3 linked regions of the Homo sapiens genome follow. The protein of the gene in region 2 interacts with the protein of the main gene of each other region in a pairwise test. Each region holds a gene or a part of one and is shown on either strand. Other genes may lie near its edges.

Region 1 (8,074 bases), on a different chromosome or scaffold from region 2:
TATTTGAGAGATAAAAATGGACGTTTGTTTTTATTTTTTTTCAAACAAGATTTTAATTGATGCTACAATTCTATCCCCTTGGCTCTTAATACAATACTAGTTTTTGAAATGAATCAAATGCCATGTGCCTGCTTTTCTTTTGGTCCTTGACTTTGTTTTAAAACTGTTCATGCCACCTCAGGAAAGAGTCTGCCATTTTGTTAATTGCTGTGGTGAAATCATTGCTGTGGTCAAAGTAGCTAACTTTGAAGATCATACCATGAAGATTTTAGTTGGCAGTGATCTTAAATTAGCTAACCACACATGTGATCAGATATCTCTGCCTTACACCTAAACTGCCAACATTAAGGTAATATAATTACATAACCCAAAGATTGATCATAAGCATGTGACTTCCTCAACCAATATTATTAAACAGGCTTGACTTGGCTATTTTACCTTGCAAGGATCAAAGATTAAGATTTAGACATCAGGATCACTAAAATGTGAAATAAAAAGGCAATGAATGAATTCAAGTCATAAGGCCAAATATTCTCAGATGGTTACATGAGAACCAGCTTTTGTGAGGCTTCAATACTATTCTTAAAATAGGTGGTGAACACTCCTATTCAACACAGTATTGGAAGTTCTGGCCAGGGCAAACAGGCAAGAGAAAGAAATAAAGCGTATTCAAATAGGAAGAGAGGAAGTCAAATTGTCTCTGTTTGCAGATGAGATGATTGTATATTTAGAAAACCCTGTCGTCTCAGCCCAAAATCTCCTTAAGCTGATAAGCAACTTCGGCAAAGTCTCAGGATACAAAATCAATGTGCAAAAATCACAAGCATTCCTATACACCAATAACAGACAAACAGAGAGCAAACTTATGAGTGAACTTCCATTCACAATTGCTACAAAGAGAACAAAATACCTAGGAATACAACTTACAAGGGATGTGATGGACCTCTTCAAGGAGAACTACAAACTACTGCTCAAGGAAATAAGAAAGGACACAAACAAATGGAAAAACATTCCATGCTCACGGATAGGAAGAATTAATATCATGAAAATGGCCATACTGCCCAAAGTAACTTATAGATTCAATGCTTTTCCCATCAAGCTACCATTGACTTTCTTCACAGAATTAGAAAAAACTACTTTAAATTTCATATGGAACCAAAAAAGAGCCTGAATAGTCAAGACAATCCTAAGCAAAAAGAACAAAACTGGAGGTATTACGCTACCTGACTTCAAATTATACTACAAGTCTACAGTAACCAAAACAGCATGGTACTTGTATCAAAACAGATACAGAGACCAATGAAACAGAACAGAGGCCTCAGAAATAATGCCACACATCTACAACCATCTGCTCTTTGACAAACCTGACAAAAACAAGCAACGGGGAAAGGATTCCCTATTTAATAAATGGTGTTGGGAAAACTGGCTAGCCATATGCAGAAAACTAAACTGGACCCCTTCCTTATACCTTATACAAAAATTAACTCAAGATGGATTAAAGATTTAAACATAAGACCTAAAACCATAAAAATCCTAGAAGAAAACCTAGGCATTACCATTCAGGACATAGGCGTGGGCAAAGACTTCATGACTAAACACCAAAAGCAATGGCAACAAAAGCCAAAATTGACAAATGGGATCTAATTAAACTAAAAAAACTTCTGCGCAGCAAAAGAAACTATTATCAGAGTGAACGGGCAACCTGCAGAATGGAAGAAAATTTTTGCAATCTACCCATCTGACAAAGGACTAATATCCAGAATCTACAAGGAAGTTAAACAAATTTACAAGAAAAAACCCCGTTAAAAAGTGGGCAAAGGATATGAACGGACACTTCTCAAAAGAAGACATTTATACGGCCAACAAACATGAAAAAAAGCTCATCATCACTTGTCATTAAAGAAATGCTAATCAAAACCACACTGAGATACCATCTCACTCCAATTAGAATGGCAATCATTAAAAAGTCAGGAAGCAACAGATGTTGGAGAGGATGTGGAGAAATAGGAACGCTTTTACACTGTTGGTGGGAGTGTAAACTAGTTCAGCTATTGTGGAAGACAGTGTGGCAATTCCTGAAGGACCTAGAACCAGAAATGCCATTTGACCCAGCAATCCCATTACTGGGTCTATACCCAAAGGATTATAAATCATTCTACTATAAAGACATATGCCCACATATGTTTATTGCAGCACTGTTCACAATAGCAAGGACTTGGAACTAAGCCAAATGCCCATCAATGATAGACTAGATTAAGAAAATGTGGCACATGTATACCATAGAATGGTATGCAGCCATAAAATGAGTTCATGCCTTTTGCAGGAACATGAATGAAGCTGGAAACCATCATTCTCAGCAAACTGACGCAGGAACAGAAAACCAAACACCGCATGTTCTCACTCATAAGTGGGAGTTGAACAATGAGAACACATGGACACAGGGAGGGGAATATCACACACCGGGGCTTGTCGGTGGGTGGGGGACTAGGGGAGGGATAGCATTAGGAAAAATACCTAATGTAGATGACAGGTTGATGGGTGCAACAAACCATCATGGCACGTGTATACCTATGTAACAAACCTGCATGTTCTGCACATGTATTTCAGAATTTAAAGTATAATAAAAAAAACTTTAAAAAAGATAGTGAAATTGAAGGATAATCTTACATATTTTCTTCATCTCTTTGTATCCCTTTTTCATATTCTAAGGGGGCAAAATGTAGCAGAGGAAGAGCATGATTTACCATATGCATATGAATTTGAATCCCAAGTCTGCTACCTATTAGCTATGTGACTTTGGAAAATTGTGGTGACCTCTCTGTTTCCAGTTTCCATATTTCTTCAAGAGAAACAGCATCATAATATGTCCCATGTAAGGGTTGTAGATAATACATACAAAATGCCTGGCACCTATGAGGCACCCAATAAGTGGGCAGCTGAAATAATATTCATTATTGAATATTGCTTTTATCAATATCATTCTATCATTATATCAATATCATAATATTAATTATAGTAATTCAATATTAATGAGTATATACTGATATACTTTTATGATTCTCAAAGTCTAATCTTTTGCCAGTGGCAGAGACCCACCCAATATTTTTTTCTTCTGAGAAGTCTGAAAGTCCTTGGGGAAGATGAGTCACCTTCAGAAATTAGAAAAGAAAGCAGAGCAGCAAATTGTGAGAACAGTTGAGGAGTCATCCTTCAATAGGTAAAGTTCATATACACCAGGGTTAAGTTCCAGGAGTGCCACTTAGAACCTGCCCCTGTCAGACTCCTCTTCCTCTCCCAGGTATGCTCGGGTCAATGATTTTACTACTATTAGGGTGTGGGATGATTTAAAGGGAAGGAAGGTATATGGGTGTGCGTGTGCACATGTGCTTACAAGTAAAATTATAATTCTTGAACAATGTTGATTCTGTACTTTTTTATGTGAATATGGGAAGATAGTTACTAGGGGAAGGGAGAAATAAAACTTCTTTTTCTGGATTAGGTAGGCAGAACCAGAAGTTCCTTTGCTTAAAGTCATTTTCTCCATATTCCTCACCAATTGGAGGATAAGTTCTGCCAAGTTCCTCTTCTGGGTAAAGAATGCCCTTGGAGAGGTCAGGCGTAGTGGCTTATGCCCATAATTCCAGCACTTTGGGAGGCCAATGCAGGAGGATTGCTTGAGCCCAGCAGTTTGAGACCTGCCTGGGCAACCCCATCTCTACAAAAAAATTTTTTAAAAGTTAGCCAGGTGTAGTGGCACATGCCTGTGGTCCCTTCTACTCAGGAGGCTGAGGTGGGAGGATTCCTTGGGCAGGAGAGGTCAAGGCTGCAGTGAGCTGTGATCACACCACTGCACTCCAGGCTGGACGACAGAGTGAGACCCAGTCTCAAAACAAAACAAAACAAATACTCTTGGAGTGTTAAACATATTGGTCATTCCTAACTTCTTGCCATTATCAGTTTAAGAAGTTAGATTTAGGAAAGTGGAGTTTTTCAGCAAGGCTTGGAAGAGGAGTTTCTTGGAAAAACAGAGAAAGCAAAAATTGGAGGAAGCAGGATGTCAGCTTCTTCTTGCTTTTGACCTTCTTCCATTTGTGCTTTCTCAATAATACGATCTCATTTATTTCGGTATTTGTGGCTGCCCCTACTTTCTGGAACCCACTAATCCATCTTGCCAGAATTCCAAAGCATCCCATTCTTCAATTTCCCTTTCTTTAACATGCAATTTCCCACACAAAAAGTAAAAGATTGTAATGGGAGAGAAAAGAAACATCCACTTTGGTCATGAAATCCATCTGGATCCTGATAAATGGTAGATATTTCAGAAAACTTTAAAAATCATGAGTTTTGAGGATCAGAGCAAAGGCACACGTAACTCAGCATGTCTAATGATGGTGGCCAAAAATCTGTCAGTGGAGTCATCATGTGACTAAGATTAGAAGGGTTATGCAACTGTAAAGCTGGAAGGAACTTGTCTAGAACAGCGAGCCCCTCGTTGTATAGATCACAGAGCATTTAAACGGTGAGAGATGTCAGAAATCACCTAGTATCGTCTCCCATATACAGATGCAAGAACTGAAAATCAATGAAGTGATGGAATTTTCTCAAAGCGTAATCTCTTGTGAGTGGCAGAGACCCACCTCAAATCCAGGTTGCTTAATTTCAATAGTGTCAGTTTACCAAACGTTTATTAAGTACCTCTTTGGGCCATGCACTGTCTGAGGCCCTGGTTTGAAGGAGCACTGGGATGAATAATACACAGCTCCTGCCTTCTTGGGGATTAAGATCTCCTTGCAGGGAAATACACATTCTCAAATATTTATAATATAGTTGTTTTGAAATAATAGAGCAAACATCAAGGTCTGGGAAGGACAGAGGAGGAAGCAATTATTTGGCTGAGAGAAGTTGAAGGTTTTTCTTTCACAATAGTGCTTCTCATACATTATTATCTTCTATTCCATTAATTGCTTTTTTTTTAATGGGAGGTAAACAAAACCTCTATTTGCTGGACTGTTTTAATAGGTGAGTGAGACTAGACAACAGGACCCCTAAGCTAAAAGGCAGAAGAGCCCATGCTTGCTGGTGAAATGGTGCATATAGCTTCTTCCTCTCCTCCCCTAACCAGGTAGTCTTTGCAGATGAACTTCATAGGCTTCCCCTTTACACACCCCCATACCTGCTTCCACACAGACCATAGGGGGAAACACAGGATATCAGACAGAGCTACATCAAAGACCTTTGTAGCTCTGCCATCGGCAGGGTGATAGGAGAGACGCAAGGTGTGCAGGGTCATGACCAGTGAGTCACTTGGGGCAGGTCAGGTCAGCAAGAGACAAGAGTCACACTTGGAGGAGACCATGGAGATAGAGAGTGCCAACTCTCAGTGACAGGCACTGAGACCCTGAGGCCCAACCATTTCATCCCAACATGTGTTTGAGAAGCCACCTGCTTGCTCACAGAAGTAGTTTCAACATTTTCTCTCCAATTTGGGTCAAATGCCTCATTTAGTAAAGAAACTCTGCTTTTCTAAAATATGAAGTGAACTAATTTCTGTTCAGCTTTTTATAAATTTTCAATCATGAGGTCCAAATTAAAATGCTTTTCAAAGTATGACTAAAGTTGCAAGCTGTGATACATGATTGGTTAAATTTTATTTTTCACATTTTAAGAAAATAATTCCATATGTTTTTGCCAGCTCATTGAACTATCTTGGCAATGAATAGATCAGTATATCTAGGAATGATTGATACCATATGATTCTTGGGTATCATATTTTGATGATATTCTGCAATGTTTCAAATTACCGAAACAGAAACCCACCCACACACACTGAGGCTCAAAATTTGCAGTTTTTGTCTTGATGGCTACATTTAGAGTTTAAACATCATCATTAAAATTTTACAGGTGACATATCAAGAAAAATTAAGCCCACTAGTTGTGTCTCTTTGAAGGGAAAACATTCCTTCATTATAATGAATGAAATTGTATGCTAGGTATGAATGCTGGTGACCTCTAGAAAATGAACCACTGACCCATAAGTGGATGAGAATCAGCCAGAGTAAATGAGGCAGAAGTTTTCCCAGCGTAACTGGGCATGCTGGCAGGGCAGATTCTTGTTATAATTAAAAGAGATAGAGTGGTCAATAGGGAACATTTAATAGGAACAAACATGACTACATTGCCAAACTATTTTTCTGGTCCATTTTTCATTCTCATGTTATGCCATATATCTGGGTTTTAAAAGTGACACAAGCATTGCACATGAAACTAACACACATACAAGTGTACAGCAGAACCCAGGAAAAATTCAATTAAAATATGAACACCATCAATCACCAACTTGTTCAGAGCAAATCCCCATCTAAATCTGTACTGACCAATACAGTAGCCATAAAAATGAGCATGTGACCCTATGCAAATCAGACATCCCCTCCTCCAGACACTGCATATATTCCTGGCTGGTGTCTACCATACTTAGGGACCTCCTCTTTTGGCTTTGGAGCGCCCCACCCCCGCGTCTCTGTACAGGGGAGCCATTTTCTTCTGCCTTCTCTTTTCTTTCTTGCCTATTAAACTCTCTGCTCCATAAAACCACACACAAAAAAATGAGCATGTGAAATGTGGCTAGACTGAATTAGATGTAATGTAAATGTAAAATACACTCTAGATTTCCAAGACAGCGTCAAGAAAAAAAAAAACAATGTAAAACATCTCAATAAATTTTTAATTATATGTTAAAATGATAATATTTTGGATATCTTGGGTTTAAAAAAATCATTAAAATTAATTTCATCTATTCCTTTTTACTTTTGTTTTCTAATATGGCTACTAGGACATTTAAAAGTACATATGTGGCTTGTGGCTTGTAATATATATATATATATATATATTTTTTTTTTTTTTTTTTTTTTTTTTTTTTTGAGACAGAGTCTTGCTCTGTCACCAAGGCTGGAGTGCAGTGGCGAGATCTCGGCTCACTGCAAGCTCCACCTCCCGGGTTCGTGCCATTCTCCTGCCTCAGCCTCCCAAGTAGCTGGGACTACAGGCGCCCCCGCCACGCCCGGCTAATTTTTTGTATTTTTAGTAGAGACGGGATTTCACCAGGTTAGCCAGGATGGTCTCGATCTCCTGACCCTGTGTCCTCCCAAAGTGTTGGCCTCCCAAAAGTTGGGATTACAGGCGTGAGCCACTGCACCCGGCCTGCTTATAGTATATTTTTATTGGCCAGTGCTGATATAAATGAAACATTTAGGTATGCAAAATAGTGTTTATCCACCTAACAGAACTGAAATATAAATTCCTATTAATTGATAATAACATGACAACACAAAGAAAACTTGCCATGAGACCAGCCTGGCCCACATGGTGAAACCCTGTCTTTACTAAAAATACAAAAAAAAAATTAGCTGGGCATGGTGGTGCACGCCTGTAGTCCCAGCTACTTGGGAGGCTGAGGCAGGAGAATCGCTTGAACCCAGGAGGGGTAGTTGCAGTGAGCCGAAAAAACTGGCCACGAAGTGATTGTTACCTTGATAAGTTACCTTTTCCATTCCTCTTACACTGGTAAGATTCTGTGAATTCAAATGTTTGCTTAATAACTTTCTAAAGGCACAATAAGAAAGAAGACATTCTGGGAAATGAATTGTGCACTAATTGTAAGTTGAGCTCTGGAAGAAACAGAAAAGAGTCATCCACCTGAGCTCTCTGGAGGTCCCTGCTTTTTGCTCCAAGGAAGCCACTACTGAGAAAGTAAGGTTAGATCTTTTATTCATTTATATGAACAGGGCTTATACATTTCTATCAGGAAGAATATCAGAGGATTCTCATCCAAGCAAACGTTGATGAAACATCATTGACAGGGTAATGACATTCTGAATGGAAAAAACGTGAACCACAAAGCTGCGTTGCAATGGGAGTGTAAACTTTGAGGGTGCAATGTGTCCCAAAGGCATGTTGATTAGAAAGTTTTAACACTGAGAGGGGTGTTTATTTAAATGAATATTATCCTCTTTGGGGAGTCCATTGGATCTATTTATTTTGGTTTTCCCAACTCTGTCTCATGCTGCATTGAAAAAGA
Region 2 (8,074 bases):
AATCACTCCCTCCCCACCCTCCTGAAGCTAGAGGAAGATTTGCTCAGATCCATTAATTAAAGCAGGAATTGGTGTGACAATGAGCTGCATGGTTTAGGGAGTCTTTGGGAGCCTTGGAAGTCCTGAAGGACAGACAATCTTGTACTAAGAAGTCACAGGTGCCCTGGCTGCCCTTGCTGCCCCTCGGCCTCTTTGACACAGGGGCCCCACCTCCTCTGTAGTGGGTTCCATCGCTGGAGCTGGAGATCAGCGTTAGCTGTAAAATGAGATGGCTGAGCAGATGTGCCACCTCTGACCATGGTTGGAACTGAACCCTTGCAATCACGTAAGCCTTTAGCAGCTCTCAAGCTTGCTCTCAGCCCTCTCAGCCCTCAGAGGGAACACAGCCATGGCTATAAGCAAGAGGATGAGTAAGGCCTGGGCGCTGCCCAGAGCTAGAAACCCAGGCCCCGGGAGGGAGAGCCTGACCCACTTCCACACATAGGAGAGGAAGAGGCCCAGGCCGCCTGCCAGCAGCACAGAGGACACAGCCAGGAAGCCCACTGCCAGCCGCCACGCTCTCTCATCACTGTTGCACTGGGCTAGGAGGAGAGGCTGGGGGGCAAAGAGGGTGAGGACCAGGGACCCGTACACGCCAAGCCTGGCCAGGCCCAGGCCAACCCGAGGCACCCCCAGGGCTTCCAGCTCAGGGAACTGGTGACACTGTAGGGTGCTGGTGTCCTCATTCCACAGGCAGAAGTTATAGAAGCCGATTCTCAGGTTGGGCAGGTCAGTGAGGTTGCCAGCCTCCCAGAGAAGAGCGTAAAACATCAGGCAGATGACCACAATCACGAGGACTATGATGCTCATGAACAGCAGCTGGTCGCGCCACCGAGGCCTTGGGCCGGCCATCTCTACTGCCCTCTGCCGGGGGACCTGCGGGGAAGTCACAGCAGTCAGTCCATCTCTCCCTTGCTTGTTCCCTGTGTCCAGACAAGCTCATGTTCTCCCTTTGGCATTTCTTACAAACTCATGGCAAGTTTCCCTCCTACCCTGCCCTCCACCAAGGACCAGAAGTCTGAGGTAACCTCCTGCCAGGACCTATTTGCAAATAAGTCATTAGCTGCCCTCTGATTTGAGGTCAGGAGGAAAAGTCTCTCCCAAGCAGCTTTGAAAGTGTGAAACATCTTAAACTGAGTGAAGTGCTCTTTAGCCAAAGGCTTTGCTCCAGTCCAAATACAACAAGCCATTGGAAACATTAGTGAGGGGATTTCTCAGATCTTTTTTGAAGGTGGGTTTTGACTGAGGTGAAGGGCAAGGCCCACCCTTAATGGAGACCTGAAGGTGGAGGAAGCTATTGGTTTTCACCACAGCTGCCAAGACAACCACCTGGGGAGCTGTAAGAACTACCCATTGCTGGGCCACAGATCAATCAGAGCTCAACTTATGTGCTTCGGGCTGGGCACTGGTGTGTTTCTGAAGCTCTGAAGCTCATTCGAAGGTGAGCCTGGGTCAAGGACCACTGACACACCCACTCTGATTTTACCTGCAGTGCTCTGGGAACTCATTACTGGGTCAAGACAAGATGTCACCTGGTGATGAAATCCCATCATATACTCATTACTTTAAAAACTAATACATATTTTTTCCTGACAATGGTAGTATGAATTATAGAAAACTTAGACGTTTTTGTTTGTTTGTTTGTTTTTGAGATGGAGCCTCACTCTGTCACCCAGGCTGGAGTGCAGTGGTGCGATCTTGGCTCACTGCAATCTCTGCCTCCCGGGGTCAAGCAAGTCTCCTGCCTCAGCCTCCCGAGTAGCTGGGACTACAGGCACCCGCCACCATGCCTGGCTAATTTTTGTATTTTTGGTAGAGATGGGTTTCACCATGTTGGCCAGGCTGGTCTTGATTGAACTCCTGACCTCAAATGATCCACCCACCTTGGCCTCCCAAAGTGCTGGGATTACAGGCATGAGCCACCATGCCTGGCCAGAAGATATTTTAAAAATAATAATAAAAAAGATAACCTTTTATCCCATCATACACATAAAACCACTGTTAATATTCTACCAATATTTTCTTCCTGTACTGATGTATTTTTACATAATCATGATGTTGAATGTAATGTTTTTTCACTAGATTTAGTAAACATTTTTCAAAGCTGTTAAATATTCTTCAAAAACATGATCAATGGCTGTGCAATAGTTCATGTGGGATCATCCATTACACTATTACTAGACAAATTGTTTCCACTTTTCACCATTATAAGTGAAGACGCTGTGTGAATCGTGTTTGGAATCTGATTTTTCTCAGGTGATCTACCTATAAGTGCAATCATTGGATCAAGGGTAGAAATATCTTTTAGTGATCTTGCTAAATACTGCCTAACTGGCCTACAGAAAATTTGCTAATCATAGTCCCTCTAATTGTATATAAAAGTGCCCACTTTGTTATACTCTTTTAAAAAATTCTTTTCACTCCGTTTTAAATCAGAAGGGCTTTGTCCAGTTGGTCTCTGAAACAGTGGTCTGCACACTGTATTTTACATATGTGTATTTTCCAGTATGGGATAAGTTTCGGCTGATATGGTTTGGCTGTGTCCCTACCCAAATCTCATCTTGAATTATAGCTCCCATAATCCCCACATTGTGGGAGGGACCCAGTGGGAGGTAATTGGATCATGGGGGTGGGTTTCCCCCATACTGTACTCATGGTAGTGAGTCTCATGATATCTGATGGTTTTATAAAGGGCATTTCCCCTGCACATGTTCTCTTGCCTGCTGCCATGTAAGATGTGCTTTTGCTCTTCCTTTGCCTTTCACCATGATTGTGAGGCCTCCCTAACCATGTGGAACTATGAGTCCATTAAACCTCTTTTTCTTTTCAAATTACTGGGTATCTCTTCATAGCAGTATGAAAATGGACTAATACAACAGCATTCACCAGGAAGTGACTAGGAACACAGAGCTTCAAGCTTTGTGAGGCACAAGGTACTGGGGCCATGATACCAAATGGCCTCCTGGAAGCCCCAGCAGGGAGTCCCAGGTGGTGTTCAGCAGCAAAATGAGTCGTGGCCCTGGGAAGGGACCTGAAGGCTACACAGCCCTGATGATCAGTTTCTGAGGGGACCCCTCTGGGGGAACAGCTCCCTCCTCTTTCCCAGAGCTGACTGGAAGGTCTGTCTCATTCTACACACTGCATTTGTTACAGAAAGGGACCAAGTGGGGAAAATAAAGAACATGGAACAGGCTGAGAGAGAGGGCAGCTCCATTCAAAGGACCTAGGTGTATGCCAAAAATGAGAATGAAGATTGACCAGCGACTTCTTTGGCAGAGACCTGGGCAGGCTGGCTGATGGAGAGCTGGGGCCTGTGAATACAGTAAGGGTGGGGTCCACACTGCCACCGCCTCCCCTCAGATGCCGCTTCTCTGGACTCAGCAGCACTGGGCAGTCTGCCCAGTTCTGCCCGTGGCTTCTGCTCCAGAGAAGCCCAGTGGGGACAGTCAGAGTGGAGGAGTGAGGGGCTGTCCCAGCAGAAGCCCTGGCTGCTGCCTTGGGTGGCACTGTCAAAGGCTCTGGAGGTCCCAGAGGGCCAAGGGTCTGAAGACTCGGGTTTGAATGTAGTTGAGAGATTCTTGGAGCAATGATGCTTGTTACGGAAGGAATTATTGGGAATTGAAAAGGTGGCATTAGTCTGGGATGATAAGGAGTTTTAACCATTTGAGTCCATGGTATGGGAAAAATTGCCGACGGGAACATATTTTGTATGGTTTTGCTTATTTAGTAAATGTTTGTAAAAGCCTATATCTGTGCTTTTAATGGGTTTGGGTATTTTAGGGTGTGGAATAGATTTCCAGGACTTCCCTGATTTATACCATCATGCTGTGGAAAAGAAGGTTTGACCTCCTCCATTGTTCAGGACCAACTGGGAAGGGACTTGGGGATGCCTTTGTTTAAACACTCCCTCTCACTTTTCCCATTTGAATTCTGTTACACTGGGGTTCCAAAAAAAATTATTAAACGTTTTGCTTTGAAAACAGCTGCCTTTTTAAAAATTAATGTGGCTCCTCGGGGAGATTGCATCAGCCACCTTGCGGCAGCTCCTGCCAGACGCCAGGAGCCTTTGTTTTGACTTCCTCATTTTCTCTCAACTGACCTTTTAATGTAGAGCAAAACAAAACGAGCCAAGAAGCCCAGGACCAGGCATGTGGAGAAGGTGGTGGCCTCTCACCTTTTTATATTCAGTCCCAGCTCTTATGAGGCTCGCCATCATCTGGTGCGACTTGGAACTTGAACTTGGAATTCTCTGGTGAGGCCCAGCTTCCCCTCTTGCCTTGTGCAGTCCAGCACCTGCTCAGCTGCTCAGGCTGTGTATGAATACATTCCCATCTGCCCATCCTCAGCCACCCCCCAGCTCCTAGAGTCCTACTCTACTTTCTGCTTCTCTAAATCTGATCCATGCAGCAAGAGCATTCCTGGGCTCCTTCAGCCCACACTCTGGTTTAGCTATAAATTAGGATTTATTCTCCACTCTAGTGTCATGTCTCTGAGGAACAGTCTTCAGTTTTGTTATTTTGATACACAGTAGGGGCTCTTTTTTTTGTTTTTTTTTTTTAAATGAGCGAATGAAAATGCTACATAGGCTCCCTGAGTTCTTTCATGTACGAATCCTGGTTACACATCTTAGGACAGCAGAGCTGCCTGAGGGAGGGTTGTGTTTAATGTCGTATGCATGCTCAGCACAGTGCTGGCATGGCCCATCCATGCTTTCTGTTGAACTATGGACAGAATTCAGGAACTTGTGTATGGAGAGGGTGGAAGTCAGTCCTCGCTTCTTTCCCTAAACATTTTGCAGTGACAGCATATGGATCTTTGGTTGGAAACCCCATGACACTCTTCTCTACTTCCCCATGGGCCTTCCCTGGTTTTTGTTTTTCTTTTCTTAAACAATCCTGGTAATGACACTTCCACCACAATGAGCTTTTAAATGTCCTTTAATGATAAGCCAGTGTTTCCTTCAGAGGGCAAAGGGGAGACTGCTGAGTCACTGTGGCCATTTTTAGATAAACCTTTTCCTGTTTATAATAACACATGCTGATTGTAGGAAACTAGAAAATACATGAAAGTGCAGAGAAAAGACTAAAAGTCATCTATACTTCAGGTCGTAGAAATAACCACTCTGAACAGCACACTTCTTTTTACACTATTGTTTTACACTGTTGGGATTACATAAATATATATGTTTGTATCCCACTTTGTGAACATCATTCTATGTGAACTAGAAATGGTTCCTAAACATTAAGGGCTGCATATAGCTGTATCATAGTTTATAGTTTATACATAGATGCTTTGTAACATTATTTTATAATGCTATGAATGCTATGGTGAATATTTTTGTGAATCAACTTATGTTTCCACCAGCAGTTTCAGAGAGTGCCTGTCTCATCCCATCCTCCCCAGTATTGCATATTCTTGAGTCTTTTATTCTTTGATAATGACAAATGATGAATCATTGATAGTTTTTCTTCATAATAAGTAAAGTTTAACATTTTCAAGTGTTTGTTGACCATCTGTATTTCTTCTTTTGTGAAGTGCTGTCAGTTCTTTTGCTATTTTAAAAATAATTTTGAGTTTCAGTTTTTGTTTGTTGGTCTGTATGAACCCTTTAAAAATAAAGGCTGTTAGCCTTTTGCCATCTTAGTTGTGACAGTAAAGTATAATGCTTTGCTGCACTAGGTCCTCTGGAACAAGATGCAGATTTAGATTCCAGGTCAGCATGTAACTTGACCACTGTCACTCAAGAGTTACAGCCTGAGCAGGGCCTTAGGAGGGAGATGATTTCTGCTTAAAGGCGATACAAATTCCTAGTTAGGGAAATAGAAGGAAAGTATTCTCAGGAGATTAATTTAAGGCAGCTTTTTTGTTGGTTTAAGCACCTCTAACATTTTCATACTAATAAGGGAGAATGGGATGGCGGCTGAAAGAGACACAAATATTGTATCATTTAATTCTAAATTATGTATTTGTCAGGTTCTTATTGAAAGAGTAAATTTTCGAAAGGATCAAGATGGCTATCTAAACACAGGTAGTATGTGCCTCCACCATGGTGAGAAACCAGAATAGTAAGTGGATCCATTTTGAACAGATTGTCTAGGAGAGAATGCTAGGATAAACCAGAAAAGATATGGGAAACATGAGAAGTAAGGAGAGGATTCGAGGCAGCTTGCCCAGCTGGGAACCGACTGAGAGTCGGGAGAGGCTCCTGATGTGGGGAAACAGTAAGAGAGAACCCCCTAGGGCTCCAAAACAAACTTTTATAATCTTGGCCACGGAAGGAAACCTCGACCCACTGGGCCAGGGCCTGGGCCTGACATTCGGAGCTGCCTAAACATTGCACAGAGGCATTGCTCCAGAAAGGAAACCAATACAAAATCTCACATGCATCTGAACCTGGAGCAGCCTCAGCAGGGTGCCATTTTGAGAGCCTAGATACTGGGACTCTACAGACATGGCTCTTGCTGCCGAGCTGCTTCAAGGAGGGAGACGGGAGAGCAGGTGCTCCCATGCACCCCTGGGAGGGTCTGCTGCCCTGCTGTGGGCTGCTATTGAGACAGATGTGAGTAGACACCCCTCCCCACAGCTTCTTTTCCACACTGCTTGTCTGGGAGGGACACTCTCTGATCCCAGGCCCAAGGTAGCATTTTGAGAGTTTAATGCTGGGCTGCATTCCCCTCCCAGCCTGAGTTTGGGCTGATGAGGCTGTAGCTGCCTCTTGGCTAAGGAAGGATAGGGAAATCAGGCCATCCTACACATATCTAGGACAAGACCCCCTGCCCTGCCATGGGCTGCTGTGAGACCGAGATGTGGCCATCCTGTGTGTTCCACAGCTTGTTGCCAATGCTGCTTACTTGTGAGGTGCTCCTCCCTCTCTGGTCTCAGGCTCCAGGTGCTATTTTGAGAGTTTAATGTTGGGCAGCACCCCTCCCTGGAACTGAGATTGGGCTGGTGCAGCTGTAGCTGCCACCCAGCCAAGGATTAACAGGGAAATCAGGCTGTCCTATGCACATCTAGGTCAATACCCACTGCTCTGCAACATGCTGCTGTTGAGACTGAAATGTGAGCAGACTGCCTTCCCTACAGCTTCTTGCCCATGCTGCCTGCCTGGAGGGACCCCTGCCCTCCTGGTCACAGGCCCAAGGTGCCATTTTGAGAGTTTAATGCTGGGCTGTGCCCCACCTTCTTGCTGAGTTCAACTTGATGTGGCTGAAGCTGCTGCCCAGTCAAGGAGAAACAAGGAATCTATGCTCTCCCGCACATACCTAGGACAATACCCAGTGCCTGCTACGGGTTGCTGTGAGACCGAGACTCAAGTAGACCACCCTCCCTACAGCTTCTTGACCATGCTGCTCACCTGATAGGGGCCCCACCTTCTCTGTTCACAAGCCCACAGCTGGCACCATTTTGAGAGTTTAATGCTGATTCATAACCAGTCTGAATTAACAATCAGGCAATGTGGCTGCAGCTGCCACCCTGGTAGGAAAGGGACAGGGAAGACCAAGCTCTCCTAAGCACACTTAGAACAGTGCCCACCACCCTGCTACAGGTGGCTGTGAGACTGGGGAGTAGCTCACCCAACCCATCACAGCTTCCAGCAACACCAACATGGACTGCTTGGATCCCAGTTGGCTGCTTCAACAGTGCTACTGCCATCACTCACATGACACCACCTGCTCAGGGGCTAGAGATCATGCCCACACACTGGGCTCACCACTCCCACTACTAGCTTCTAAGCAAGCCATGTGGAGGCCCAAGAATCAGCCCTCCAAGACCCACTAACCACCAGAGCAGCGTAAGCTGCTGTGGGGCCTAAAAAGGGCACACTTACCCCACTGTTGCCACCACTGGGGTCCAAAGGCTGCTCAGTTGGCATCCAAGTCCCAGCTAAACTTCTGGGGACTTAGTCTCAGCTAATTACCATACTCTATCCCACTGAGGAAATCACAGAGAACACTGACCCTATGCCGAAGAAGTCATAGAAAGATCACACGACTGCAGGCATCCAAAATCAAAGTCAAAGCATCTTAACAACATG
Region 3 (6,526 bases), on a different chromosome or scaffold from region 2:
GTAGTACCAGCCCTCTAATTGGTATTTTTTGGTTGTCACATGGCCAGGGCAGGAGGGTCGGGTGGGGGTCACTCTGGCAGTTTGTGAATGTTATGGGCCAAATTGTGCCACCCCTCCCAAATGCATATGTTTAAATTCTAATTCCCAGGACCTCCTAATATGGCTGTATTTGGAGACAGGATCTTTAAAGTGGTCGTTGTAGGCCCAGCACAGTGGCTCATGCCTGTAATCCCAGCACTTTGGGGGACCAAGGTGGGCAGATTGCTTGAGCCTAGGAGTTCAAAACCAGTCTGGGCAACATGGTGAAACCCCGTTGCTACAAAAAATACAAGAATTAACCAGGCACGGTGGTGCACACCTGTAATCCCAGCTACTCAGGAGGCTGAGGCGGGAGGATGCTTAAGCCTGGGAGGTGGAAGTTGCAGTGAGCTGAGATCACACCACTGCACTCCAGCCTGAGTGACAGAGCGAGACCCTGTCTCAAAAACAAAAGAAGAGGAGGAGGAGATTAGGACCCAGACACACAGAAGGAGAACCAGGTGAAGACACAGGGAGAAGAGGATCATCTACAAGCCAAGACAGGAGGCCTCAGAAGAAATTAACCCTGCCAACACCTTGATCTTGGACATCCAGCCTCCGGAACTGTGAGAAAATGCATTCTGTTGCTGAAGCCACCCAGTCCTTTGTTATGGCAGCCCCAGCAAACTAACACACAGTAGACAAGGAACACCCAACATAGTGGCATTTTGAGAAGCACTAACATTGCAAGAGCTAATAGCCCAGGAAAGTCCACACAGAAGTAAAGTGAATTTTTATTTTTATTTATTTATTTGAGATGGAGTCTTGCTCTGTCACCCAGGCTGGAGTGCAGTGGCACAATCTCGGCTCACTGCAACCTCCGCCTCCTGGGTTCAAGCAATTCTCGTGCCTTAGTCTCCTGAGTAGCTGGGATTACAGGCACATGCCACCACGCCCAGCTAATTTTTTTGTATTTTTAGTAGAGATAGGATTTTACCATGTTGGCCAGGCTGGTCTCGAAATCCTGACCCCAGGTGATCAGCCCACCTCAGTCTCCCAGAGTGCTGGGATTACAGGCGTGAGCCACTGTGCCTGGCAAGTAAAGTGAATTATATCATCAAAGACGTTACAACCCACAGATAGCTCAAGGGCACGTGCTGGCAGATAGGTCCATCGTTGTCCTGTGTGGATATGACCAGGTTATGGCCTGCCTGGCCACACTATGTAGGGGTCTTGCTTTTCAGCTGGTATGCCTTTCTAGAAGTTCCATGGGCCAGCCAGGTGTGAGGGTGAACGCCTGTAGTCCCAGCTACTTGGGAGGCTGAGGCAGGAGGATCACTCGAGCCCAGGAGGCAGAGGGTGCAGTAAGCTATGATTGTGCCACTGCACTCCAGCCTGGGTAGTAGAATGAAACCCTATCTCAAAAAAAAAAAAAAAAAAAAAAAAGGATAGAAGTTCCACGGGCCAAGTCTTCTGGCAAAAGTCTGATTCTGCCACTTAGCTTGTGCAAACCTCACCCAAGACATTGAGAAAGTTGCTGGTCAAAAATAATTTTGATGGTTTCTGGGTTATTTGTGCTGTTTGAGACCAGGAAGGAAGCAGTGTCTGGAGAGGACGACATGGGGTGAATATAGAAGCTCTCCTGTCTTCTCCGCTGATGTTCTGTATTTTTAGGTTTGTAATTTGCAATGATGTGGGGACTACATGAGACCAGCCCACTTAATGTATTTCTGTGCGAGGCAGATCTAGAGGTCTAGCTCAAAGGGAAATTTTTCTGTCACCACTTTCAAAGCTTTTGTTTGGAAAAAAAAAAAAAAGGAAAAGATGGGGAAAGTAAAAATAAAAATAAAAATATCGGCCAGGTACGGTGACACATGCCTGTAATCCCAGCACTTTGGGAGGCCATCACGGAAGGATTGCTTGACCCCAGGAGTTTGAGACCAGCCTCGGCAACAGAGTGAGACCTCATCTCTATAAAAATAATAATAATAATTTTGAGCCAGGCACAGTGGCTCACACCTGTAATCCTCACAATTTGGGAAGCCCAAGTAGGAGGATCCATTGAGGCAAGGAGTTTGAGACTGGCCTGGGCAACATAGTGAGACTCCCTCTCTTTAAATGCTACAAAAAATTGGCCAGGCATGGTGGTGCGCATGTGTAGTCCCAGCTACTCAGGAGGCTGAGATGGGAGGATCACCTGAGCCCAGAAGTTTGAGGCTGCAGGAAAAGGAGCCCAGTCCCAGCTCTTTGTGGTTCACAGGCGCCAGGATATTTCATCCCAGGTTCAACACCAGCCCCAGGGTCCTCAGGGCTAGTATCACTTCCCAAGAGTCATGATCAGGAACTTAGTGAAGATCCTTTCAACCCCAGAAGTGGGAGACCTCCCACCACCAAGCTCTGAGCATCCTCCCAGCTCACCATCTACTAGGGCAAGCCCAAGTCCTCACTCTAGAAACAGCCTGACTTGCACCCCTGGGAACTTGCTGCATCCAGGGTGCCAATCCTGTTTGAGGCACATCTGTGTGTCCACTCACGAAGAGGCAAGGCCGTCCACGAAAGGGCAGGAGATTCTCATCTCAAAGAGACACTCAGATATGGACCCCCAGCCTCGGCCCTGGGCTTCAACAGGAACATTTCCGCTCACAAATCCAATACGTAGTTTTGTAGCAAGAGAGATCATTCCAGGTGCCACCTTTGTTCATGGTAGCACAGTCCTCATCGTGGATGTTATTGGGTTCCTCTGGCTCCCAGAAGCTGGATGGAGGAAAAAGTGGGCAGAGGGACAGGGATCTTTAGGGTGGTGAAACTCTTCTGTATAATACTGTAATGATGAATACCTGGCACTACGCATTTGGCAAAACCCATATTAGGCCGTGTGTGGAGCCTTACACCTGTAAGCCGGGCACAGTGAGCCACCGTGCCTGGCCCTTAATCAATTTCTGGTTTTGGGGGGTTTTTTGTTTTGTTTTGTTTTGTTTTGGAGACAGAGTCTCACTCTGTCGCTGAGGCTGGAGTGCAGTGGCGTGATCTCGGCTCACTGCAACCTCTGTCTCCTGGGTTCAAGCAATTCTCCTGCCTCAGCCTCCCAAGTAGCTGGGATTACAGGTGTCCACCACCACACCCGGCTAGTTTTTATATTTTTAGTAGAGACGGGGTTTCACCATGTTGGCCAGGCTGGTCTTGAACTCCTGACCTCAAGTGATCCGCCCGCCTCAGCCTCCCAAAGTGCTAGGATTACAGGCACGAGCCACCGTGCCTGGCCCCTTAATCAATTTCTGAATCTGGTCAGTTTCTGTCTTGTCTTCCAAGGACTCTTTCTTTTACAACCTCCCAACCCAACCTTCTAGGAATTGTTTAGATCATGTGGGCTCTTGCTTAAAGCAGGGCCTGATTCAGGGACTCGAGTGTGTAGGATTTATTAAAGGATGTTCTTAGGAGAGAGGTGAGGGAAGCTAGATGGAGAAGGGGAAGGAATTGAGCAGGAGCATGGACTCAGATGACTCTAGCCTCAGCCTGACCCCAACAGAGACCACTGGGATGTCAACAGCACCAGAGTCATCCCAACTTGTCACAAGGGGTCCAGGCTTCTCTTAGGCTGTCACCGGTTGTGAGCTGACCCCAGTGGAGTTGGGTAGTGTCTTAGGTGAGCAGGCTCCCATTCAGCTGAGAATAGCTTTGCGGAAAAAGCATTCCTGTGAGCCTTTAGCAGCCAATGTTCCGCCAGGTGCGGTGGCACACACCTGTAATCCCAGCACTTTGGGAGGCCAAGACGGGTAGATCACCTGAGGTCAGGATTTCGAGACCAGCCTGGCCAACATGTTGAAACCCCGTCTCTACTAAAACTACAAAAATTAACCAAGCATGGTGGCGGGCGCCTGTAATCCCAGCTACTTGGGAGACTAAGGCAGGAGAATCGCTTGAATCCAGGAGGCAGAAGTTGCAGTGAGCCAAGATTGTGCCACTGCACTACAGCTCGGGCCACAGAGTGAGACTCCGTCTCAAAAAAAAAAAAAAAAATTAGCCAGGCATGGTGGTGCGCACCTGTAATCCCAGCTACTCAATAGTCTGAGGTGGGAGAATCACTTGAGCCTGGGAGGCAGAGGTTGCATTGGGTCAAGACTGCACCACTGCACTTCAGCCTGGGCAACAGAGTGAGACTCTGTCTCAAAAAAAAAAAAAAAAAAAAAAATTCTTCCTCATCCTTCCACCCTCCCTTTTTTCTCCCAACCATTAGCCTGGAGAGCTTGATATATTTCAGCAGTTTTACGAAAAGACTGAGATGTTGCAATGGAGGAAATATTGAAGGTTCAGGGTCCAGACAGCCTGTCACCAAAAAATCACCCTGGTGCTGTCCCTGTCTGGCCAAGCCTGGGATGCTAGACACCCTATCAGCTTGGACTGCAAGGATGCCAAGCACACAGGGAAATGGGAATGACTGGGGGTGGTGTACCAAAATAATGAGCAATGCTACCTGTGCCACACACCCTGCAATCAGGGTCTCTAGGCCCCTTCTTTGCCAATGACAAATCCTTTAGTTGTTAGGTGATGTGGAAGTCCAAGGGGCAGCAGAAGGATTCTCAGGAGATTTAAGGCAATGGCAATTTACCAAACAGGACAGGAATTTTTCTGTGTTTAAAATTAGTAGAGGCCAGGTGTGGTGGCTCAAGCCTGTCATCCCAGCACTTTGGGAGGCTAAGGCGGGTGGATCGCTTGAGCTCAGAAGTTCAAAACCAGCCTGGGCAACACACTAAAACCCCATCTCTACTAAAAATACAAAAAATTAGCCAGGCATGGTGGTGTGTGACTGTGGTCCCAGGTACTCGGGAGGCTGAGGCAGGAGGATTACCAGAGCCTGGGAGGTTGAGGCTGCAGTGAGCCGAGATTGCACCACTGCACTCCAGCCTGGGTGACAGGGCGAGACTGTCTCAAAAAACTAAAATAAGGTTGGGCGCAGTGGCTCACCCCTGTAATCCCAACACTTTGGGAGGCCAAGGTGGGCAGATCACCTGAGGTCAGGAGTTCAAGACCAGCCTGGCCAACATGGTGAAACCCCATCTCTACAAAATTACAAAAATTAGCCAGGCACGACGGCGGGTGTCTGTAATCCCAGCTACTTGGGAGACTAAGGTGGAAGAATCAACCTCTACCTGGGAGACAGAGATTACAGTGAGCTGAGATCGCACCATTGCACTCCAGCCTGAGCGACAGCGAGACTCCGTCTCAAAGAATAAATAAATAAATAAATAAATAAATAAATAAATAAATAATAAAATAAAATAAAACAAGTAGAGCTGTACCAGTAAAAACCAGCTCCTGGCCGGGCGCGGTGGCTCACGCCTGTAATCCCAGCACTTTGGGAGGCCAAGGCGGGCAGATCACGAGGTCAGGAGATCAAGACCATCCTGGCTAACACGGTGAAACCCCGTCTCTACTAAAAATACAAAAAATTAGCCGGGCATGGTGATGGGCACCTGTAGTCCCAGCCACTCGGGAGGCTGAGGCAGAGAATACCTTGAACCTGGGAGGCGGAGCTTGCAGTGAGCTGAGATTGCGCCACTGCACTCCAGCCTGGGCGACAGAGCAAGACTCTGTCTCAAAAAAAAAAAAAGAAACAGCTCCTGACTCCTTCAACCATGTACTCCATCACCTTCTCCCCTCCCCATGGTCAGGGCCCACAGAGGAAGCAGAGAGACCCCAGGAAACCCAAGCACTTGCCTTAATGTCACAGGAGACCCATCCAGCCACCTCCAGTCCCCTTCCTGGGCCCTGTCATTCAGCCCCAGCCAGTACACCCGTGGAGAGCCATGGGCCTTGGCCACAAAATTCTGCAAATAAAAATTCCATTCAGCCAGCCATTCCTCTACATGACCCTCAGGGTGAGGACCTGCCCTGTGCCCTGTCCTACATATTTAGGGCTTGGGAACGTCACCTCCCACAACCCGTCCCCGTCCCCATGGTATGCAGAACAGGATCAATGTCTTCCTCCCACTGTAGCATGTGTGGTGGGAATAATCGTGCTACTTTTTCTCATGCAATCTGCGAACTGCTCCGTGCCTCAGTTTCCTCACCTGTAAAATGGGTTCACAGTAGCTACCTCCTGGTAGTGTTGTGAGGATTAACTTTTTTTTTTTTTTTTTTGAGAGGGAGTCTCGCTCTGTCACCCAGGCTGGAGTGCTGTGGTGCGATCTCAGCTCACTGCAGCTTCCACCTCCTGGGTTCAAGCGATTCTCCCGCCTCAACCTCCCGAGTAGCTGGGATTATAGCTACCCGCCACCACGCCCGGCTAATTTTTGTATTTTTTAGTAGAAACGGGCTTTCGCCATGTTGACCAGCCTGATCTCAAACTTCTGACCTCAGTTGATTCACCTGCCTCAGCCTCCCAAAGTGCTGGAATTACAGGCATGAGCTACCACATCCAGCCTAATTTTTTTTTTTTTTTTTTTGAGACAGGGTCTCACTCTGTCAACCAGACTGGAGTGCAGTGGTGTGATCATGGCTCACTGCATGT

The links.
Region 1: the proteins of TMEM140 (region 2) and CLRN1 interact in binary tests that used the Homo sapiens proteins (3 or more experiments, as listed by UniProt).
Region 3: the proteins of TMEM140 (region 2) and CLEC17A interact in binary tests that used the Homo sapiens proteins (3 or more experiments, as listed by UniProt).

Annotation. Positions count from the first base shown.
Region 1 is NC_000003.12:150,962,428-150,970,501, forward strand, and holds part of CLRN1 (clarin-1), read right to left. Parts: intron 1-8,074. UniProt on the Homo sapiens protein: May have a role in the excitatory ribbon synapse junctions between hair cells and cochlear ganglion cells and presumably also in analogous synapses within the retina.
Region 2 is NC_000007.14:135,157,259-135,165,332, reverse strand, and holds part of TMEM140 (transmembrane protein 140), read right to left. Parts: intron 916-8,074; 5' UTR 892-915; coding exon 334-891; 3' UTR 1-333.
Region 3 is NC_000019.10:14,606,310-14,612,835, reverse strand, and holds the end of CLEC17A (C-type lectin domain family 17, member A), read right to left. Parts: intron 5,844-6,526; coding exon 5,734-5,843; intron 2,773-5,733; coding exon 2,640-2,772; 3' UTR 801-2,639; downstream 1-800. UniProt on the Homo sapiens protein: Cell surface receptor which may be involved in carbohydrate-mediated communication between cells in the germinal center. Binds glycans with terminal alpha-linked mannose or fucose residues.